2 separate regions of the Homo sapiens genome follow, and region 2 is linked to region 1. The links come from fine-mapping of genetic effects on gene expression. A gene starts in region 1. The other region holds a variant in brackets. All regions are shown on one strand. Distances are from middle to middle. Region 1 holds the start of PAQR8 (progestin and adipoQ receptor family member 8). Region 2 overlaps EFHC1 (EF-hand domain containing 1).

Region 1 (2,909 bases):
CTCAATAAGCCCTCTTGTACGGTTGTGACCTCTGGCCTATCATAGGTTTTTGACGATAAAGGAGAGCCCGGGTTTTTGAGGTTAAGGGAGAGTTCCCTGACATCTTTGGGGTGAAGAAGAGATGGAGGGAGCAAAGCTGCCAAAGACCTCCTGTGACATTTCCACTAGTATCCACCTATAAGTAAGTGCTGGACTATGATTCCCTGGGGAGATCAGTGGCTCTAAAGACAGGCCCCTGGGCTCTTTCCTGGCTCTGACTCAGCTTCAAACCTGCCGTGCAACTGCTCAGAGTCTAAATGTCTTCATTTATGGAACTGAAATAATCCTGCTAAGATTACTTTCTTTGCTTCGTGATGTTTGCCTGAGAATAAGTAGCTGGGACTACAGGCGTGTGCCACCACGCCCATCTAATTTTTGTATTTTTTGCAGAGACAGGGTCTCACCTTGTTACCCAGGCTGGTCTCGAACTCCTGGGCTTAAGCAATCTGCCCACTTTGGCTTCCCAAAGTTCTGGGATTACAGGTGTGAACCATCACACTCGGCTAAAATGTTTTGAAAAATGGAAACATTGTACAAATGTGAGATGTTGTGCAACATGTCACTGAAACACGGTGGTATAAGAGAAGTTTTGGGAACCAGCAGACCAGAATTAGGCCTGAGAAAATCTTACAGTAAGCAGACCAGAATTAGGCCGTCTGAGAAAATCTTACAGTAAGCAGACCAGAATTAGGCCTGTCTGACAAAATCTTACAGTAAGCAGGCCATCTTCCCAGGCCTTCTCTTTTCTCCAGATAATGAAGAAGGCTTTTTAAAAGCAAAGCCAACTTGATTTGTTAATTGATCATCCAACTTCTTAACTGTCTTTTTCTCATGGTAAAATACCGAGAACATTGTGGGTGAGGAGCAAGTCGGGAGGTGGAACCCACCCCCGCACCCTGCCTCCAATAGATTGTATGTGTGGGTCGCTATTGCTGGGACCCACGAAGGCTGTGGATTGAGGACACAGGGTAGAAGTGGGATCTTCTGCAGGTCAGTGTCAGATGTGTCTGTGTGATGTAGTCATGGGAGAGGCGCGAGTCTTGGGCGGGTGTATCTTAGGGGTGTGGAAGTGTCTGCAAGGGCCTCCGTGGTATGTCATCACATTATTTATATCATGGGCATGACCCTGAACGTTCACCCGAGAGTGGTGAGAGAAAGGCCAGGATTTAAATCAGTCTTGACAGCGCAGATGAAGTTTGTTATTGTTTTCCGCCCTTCCCGAGGGACTTCGGAAATGGCCCCCTGAGAGGTGAATTCTTGGAAAGAATATGAGGGCGGTTAAGGCGTCTCTGTCTCAAACTCTCCGGATTTTTTGCAGCTACCAGGGACTGCGAGGGTCTGCGTCCTGGGTGGAAGGAAGCGGCGTCAGTCAACTTCCTCGCAGCGGCGGCAGCGGCGCGGGCTGCAGCGGAGCGCGCGGGTCTGCGCATCCCGCCCCCGGGTCGGGAAGGGGCGGAGCTGGGCGTCACCCGCCCCCGGCGGTCTCCTCCTCCCGGCCGCTCCCCCGAGCCGAGCCCGCCGCGGTCACAGCCACCCGCGGGAAGCTCGTGGCCGGGACCCCGAGGCGGGAGCGCGGGCTGGGCCGGGCTGGGCTACGCGCACGGGCTCGGCCGCCGCCCCTGCCGGTGAGTCCCGCCGCGGGAGGCGCGGAACGGGTCGAGTTGGGTATTGGGACCGCGAGGTCGGGGAGCCCCGGGGCCCGAGCTCGGGAGGCGGGGACGTCAGGATCGCGGCGTTGGGGAGTCCTCGCACCCCGAGCTCAGAGGGGAGGTCCAGAGTCGCAGCGTTGGGAACCTGAGGCCAGGGGCCGGAGTTTAGGGCCCCGATGTTGAGTCTCCGAATCCAAGCCCGGAAGGGGGGACGACGGGTTAGGATGCTGGGGAGCCCTGGAGCTCTGAACGGCTGTAGTGGGGTGGCCAGGACTGCGATGCTGGGGAGTCATGGAGCCTGAGCCTGGAGAGCTGGCGGGGGTGTGGGGACCGCGATGTTGGGAAGGCTGAGCCCGGAGGGCGGGAGATTCAGGACCAAGACGTGGGGGAGTCCGACAGGGCAGAACGAGGGGCGTCCTGTCCGCATTTGTGGGGCGCCCTCCGCAGGGCGGAGGGGAACGGAACCTGGGAGGGGAGTGCGGAGGAGAGGAAGCCCGGGGCGGTAGGGAGAGCCCGAGGAAGGGCAGCCCGAGGTAGGGGAACCCCGGAAAGAGTAGGGTGGGTCTAGGCATGTGCTTTCGCCGGGGAAAGATGGAGGGGGCTTCTCTGAGAGGGTGGGCGCGAGGAGCGGAGTTGTGATGGGAACCGCCGGCAGCTGGCTAATGGGCGGATGCTGGGGCTTGGCTGGATGGGAACGCCGCGGTGGGGTGTCGGAGGTGGCTGGTGGGGCTGGAACGCTGGGAACGTCTGTCTAGGCTATGAGAACGCAGCGCCCTCGGTGGAACAGGGTCGTAGATAACTCGAGAGGGAATCTAGTCTAGGGAGCAAGACCGGGCATCCCCAGACGGAGGCGGGTGGGGACCTCGCACTCAGCGCGCTTGGGGAATATTCGGAGCCTGGGTTTGGGGGCTGCTGCACCTTGCCGACCCGGTGCGGGGACCTGGAGGTAGCCGGGCACAGCAGCTTCCTGTGCAGCTGTGGGTGCTCCAGGCACTGGCAGACTAGTGGGAAGTCCAGGAGCCTTGGCAGGCTCATTGTCTTGACCTAAGTTGCATTCCATATTTCTTAGCTGGGTTAGAAATGATTTTGTCCAGGAACCCAATGAGAAGAGCCTGGGCTAAAAAAATTAGTTATGGAGTGAGATTTCAAATGTACAGGTAATACCTACCCGTGTGTGTGCGCGCCTTAGGGATAACTCATACAATACACTGTATGTGTGAT
Region 2 (2,909 bases), 140 kb after region 1:
TGTAGCAAGCAATATTGTAGGAAGCAGAAATGATCATCACTTCAAACTGGCCACCAGGGAGTTGAAAGATTCTAATACACACACACACCCACACACACACACACACAAAGAGAGAATGAGAATTATTAAGATTAGCACTGGTAGCTGAAGCTATCAGGTCTAACTGAAGCATTTGACTAAGACTGCTTATAGTGCTTACGGCTTTGGGACTAATAAAAATCTGCCTTGCGGGTAAAGATGGGCTGTGAGTTAGCCACTACTCAGAAACCTGGGCCTGTACCTTGTCTGCACCATCAGGGGGCCTTGAAAATACCATCCAATTAAGGTGTATCAAATCCATATCTATAGGCTTTGAGGGTATTTGGGACACATAGGTAGAGAAGACGTCTCTAAATGTTGTCCAGAGAATCCACTTGGTTAAGTGACTCCTGAGTATCCTGCTGGCACATAAGTTCATTTTAAAAAGCCAATATGAGTGCTTTATATGTACCATGAACTTAGCATTCAGTATCTCTAAATCTCTCACCATGACTCCCCACAAAACATGAAACCCTTTTGACACAGATGCACAAAAAGACTCGGAAGGGTTAACTGCTTGAGTTCACCTAGCTTCTCATGGCAGAGCAGGACCCAACTCTACAATGAAGCTTGCCATGCATCAGAACCACTCACCTTCACCTCAAGCAAACATTTCCTCTTTCTCACACCCCATGGGTGTCCTTGACTAACTGCCACCTGTAACTGCACTCATCTTTTGAGATCTTTTTCCAAAGAAAGATGGTTCTGGTAAACACAGCAAGCAGCTACAGCCAACAGCAGCCATGTAAGTGACACCAGCAATCCCCACTATTACTAATACTTGGATGTCTTCTAGTCAGCACCAACATATTTGTTGGCCTTTACACAAACGAAACCCCATTTCCTCCAAGCTAAATAACATCATAGTATAGTAGGCATCAAGGATGATGTGCTTGTTTCTGGAGCTTCCTACCCACAAACCCCATGTTAAGAAAACCTCTTTTCCACTTTACTATTAAAGAGTCAAATAAAAATGATGCTTATTGCTATCCAGCACTTGACATAACTGACTCTCCATCCTTAATTCCCTAATTCATAT[C/T]ACAATGGACAAATACGGGTCAAAATATATAAGAAATGACTAATATAGTGAAAAATAATAGACATGAGGGCTAAAATTCATTGCAAACTCCTTTAAGCAAACGTAAACATCCACGTTAAAAGCATCACTGTATAAAAGCACGTCAAGGAAATAATTATGAGACAATTCTGATAATTTTCTGCCTTTTATTGTTATTTCAGAAAATATTTGATCATTTGTTCCAAAATGTACATTTAAAAAATCCATACAAAACTGTAATTTGTTTTAAAACCAGACAGAAACAGTGGAAAAATGATTTTGAAAAAAAGTTCACCAAAAGCAAAAAGACACCCCTCCCCCCAACCCTTTTTTACATGAAAGCATAAATACGGCAGGTACAAATTTTCCTTGAGTTCCTTGTTGAAATTTGGTCCATATGAACAGGCTAGAGTAGAAAACAGACACTTTGTCCACATTTGCATTATCAGTTGCTCAGGGCACCAGCAGCCTTAGTTCATCCTTCAGATGTTTTTTTAAACAGAGGAACCGAAAAATGAGGTTTACAGTCTCATCACATGAACACTCAAATCTGTACCCAAGGAAACAGCGGTATTATATTTACTGTCACAGCTAGACCCTATCAGGTGAACAGGGCTCTCCACCTGCGGCTGTTGCTTCGCAAAATATCCTTCCTCTCCACGTGAACAAGTAGCTCTAGAGTGCTTTTAGGCAGAGTGACGGTGATGTCATGGGCACCACGCCAATCTTATTCCTGGACAATGACTTAAGCCCCATCGTGAGAATGGTTTTTTCCTCTTCAACACATTTTTTAAAAATAGACCTCTAAGATGATGCTACATGTTCTAAAAGAGTGCCACAGAAACCCACCCAGGATCACAAGAATGACAACAAAAGGAAAGTGGCTATTTCTTGTGTAAGGGATGACGACTCCCCCTCCCATGGGTCCCATTTCTCCCCCAGTTGCAGGTGTTTTAAGGGACAGAAAGGCTGTGGAAAGGACCACTGGCTGGGAGAGTTATTGCACAACCCGGAAGAGTGAGAAAAACGTGGGCGGGCAAGGGGTAGGGGAGAGGGTTGCTGCGACTAAAACAAGGTAACACTGAATTAGGAGCTCGAACAGTTCTGCAACAGTCAGACATGTATGTGTTTATGTGTTAGCACTTGGAGACTGGGAAGTAAAAGTAAACACCTTTATCATATAAACTTTGGGCTGAATGGGAAGCAAAATAGACCAAAAGAGGTTACGGCAAGTGGGCCTTTTAAAAAAAATCTGGGGGTGGGGAAAATAACGGAGAAGGAGTTTGCTATGTGGGGCCAGAGGAGAGTTTTCGAAGTGGGGGCTGGAAGCTCTGGGCTTCTCTTAATAGGTATGCTTGTGGTTGGGCCACCTCACAGACTTCCACAGCCACCCAGCTGGGCCAGAAGAGAACTGACACAAGGGAGAAACCAAAAACAAAACAGAACACACCACAGACCCTAATCCTGGGCAGCGGGGTTAGAAACAAATGGGGTGAAACTGTCACAATCCGTGTCCCTTTTATATATAACTATACTGAGGTATGGTGTCCTTGGCTGCCGTCGAGCCCTGGCAACTGGGGGCTGGCCACGGAGTACAAGTTGAAAACCACACAGCAAAGTAAGGCACTTATTCTCACACACAGGCGCACGCACGCAATCTGCTTGGGACAAAAAGTCTACAGGGGTTGCCAAGCACGAAAGGCTACATGGAGACTGCAAATCCCAATGCTCGTCTTTATAGCTCTGCCACTCCAGGGAACTCCATAAAAGAATG

What was found. PIP is the estimated chance that this variant, and not a neighbour inherited with it, causes the effect. A credible set is the group of variants that fine-mapping cannot tell apart.
Region 2: its variant is the best candidate, but not a certain one, in a credible set for the expression of PAQR8 in putamen (GTEx, PIP 0.64).

What each region holds. Positions count from the first base shown.
Region 1 is chr6:52,360,586-52,363,494 of GRCh38, forward strand. PAQR8 (progestin and adipoQ receptor family member 8) reads left to right here and starts at 1,566. Exons shown (of 2, transcript NM_133367.5): 1 at 1,566-1,664. RefSeq lists silencers at 970-1,155, 1,329-1,818.
Region 2 is chr6:52,496,120-52,499,028 of GRCh38, forward strand. It overlaps EFHC1 (EF-hand domain containing 1), which reads left to right. Exons shown (of 11, transcript NM_018100.4): 11 at 1-1,079. It overlaps TRAM2 (translocation associated membrane protein 2), which reads right to left. Exons shown (of 11, transcript NM_012288.4): 11 at 1,289-2,909. Among named protein-coding and RNA genes, the nearest start is that of EFHC1, 77 kb to the left of the region's middle. RefSeq lists a silencer at 1,695-1,896. The variant C/T (reference allele first, on the strand shown) is at 1,118.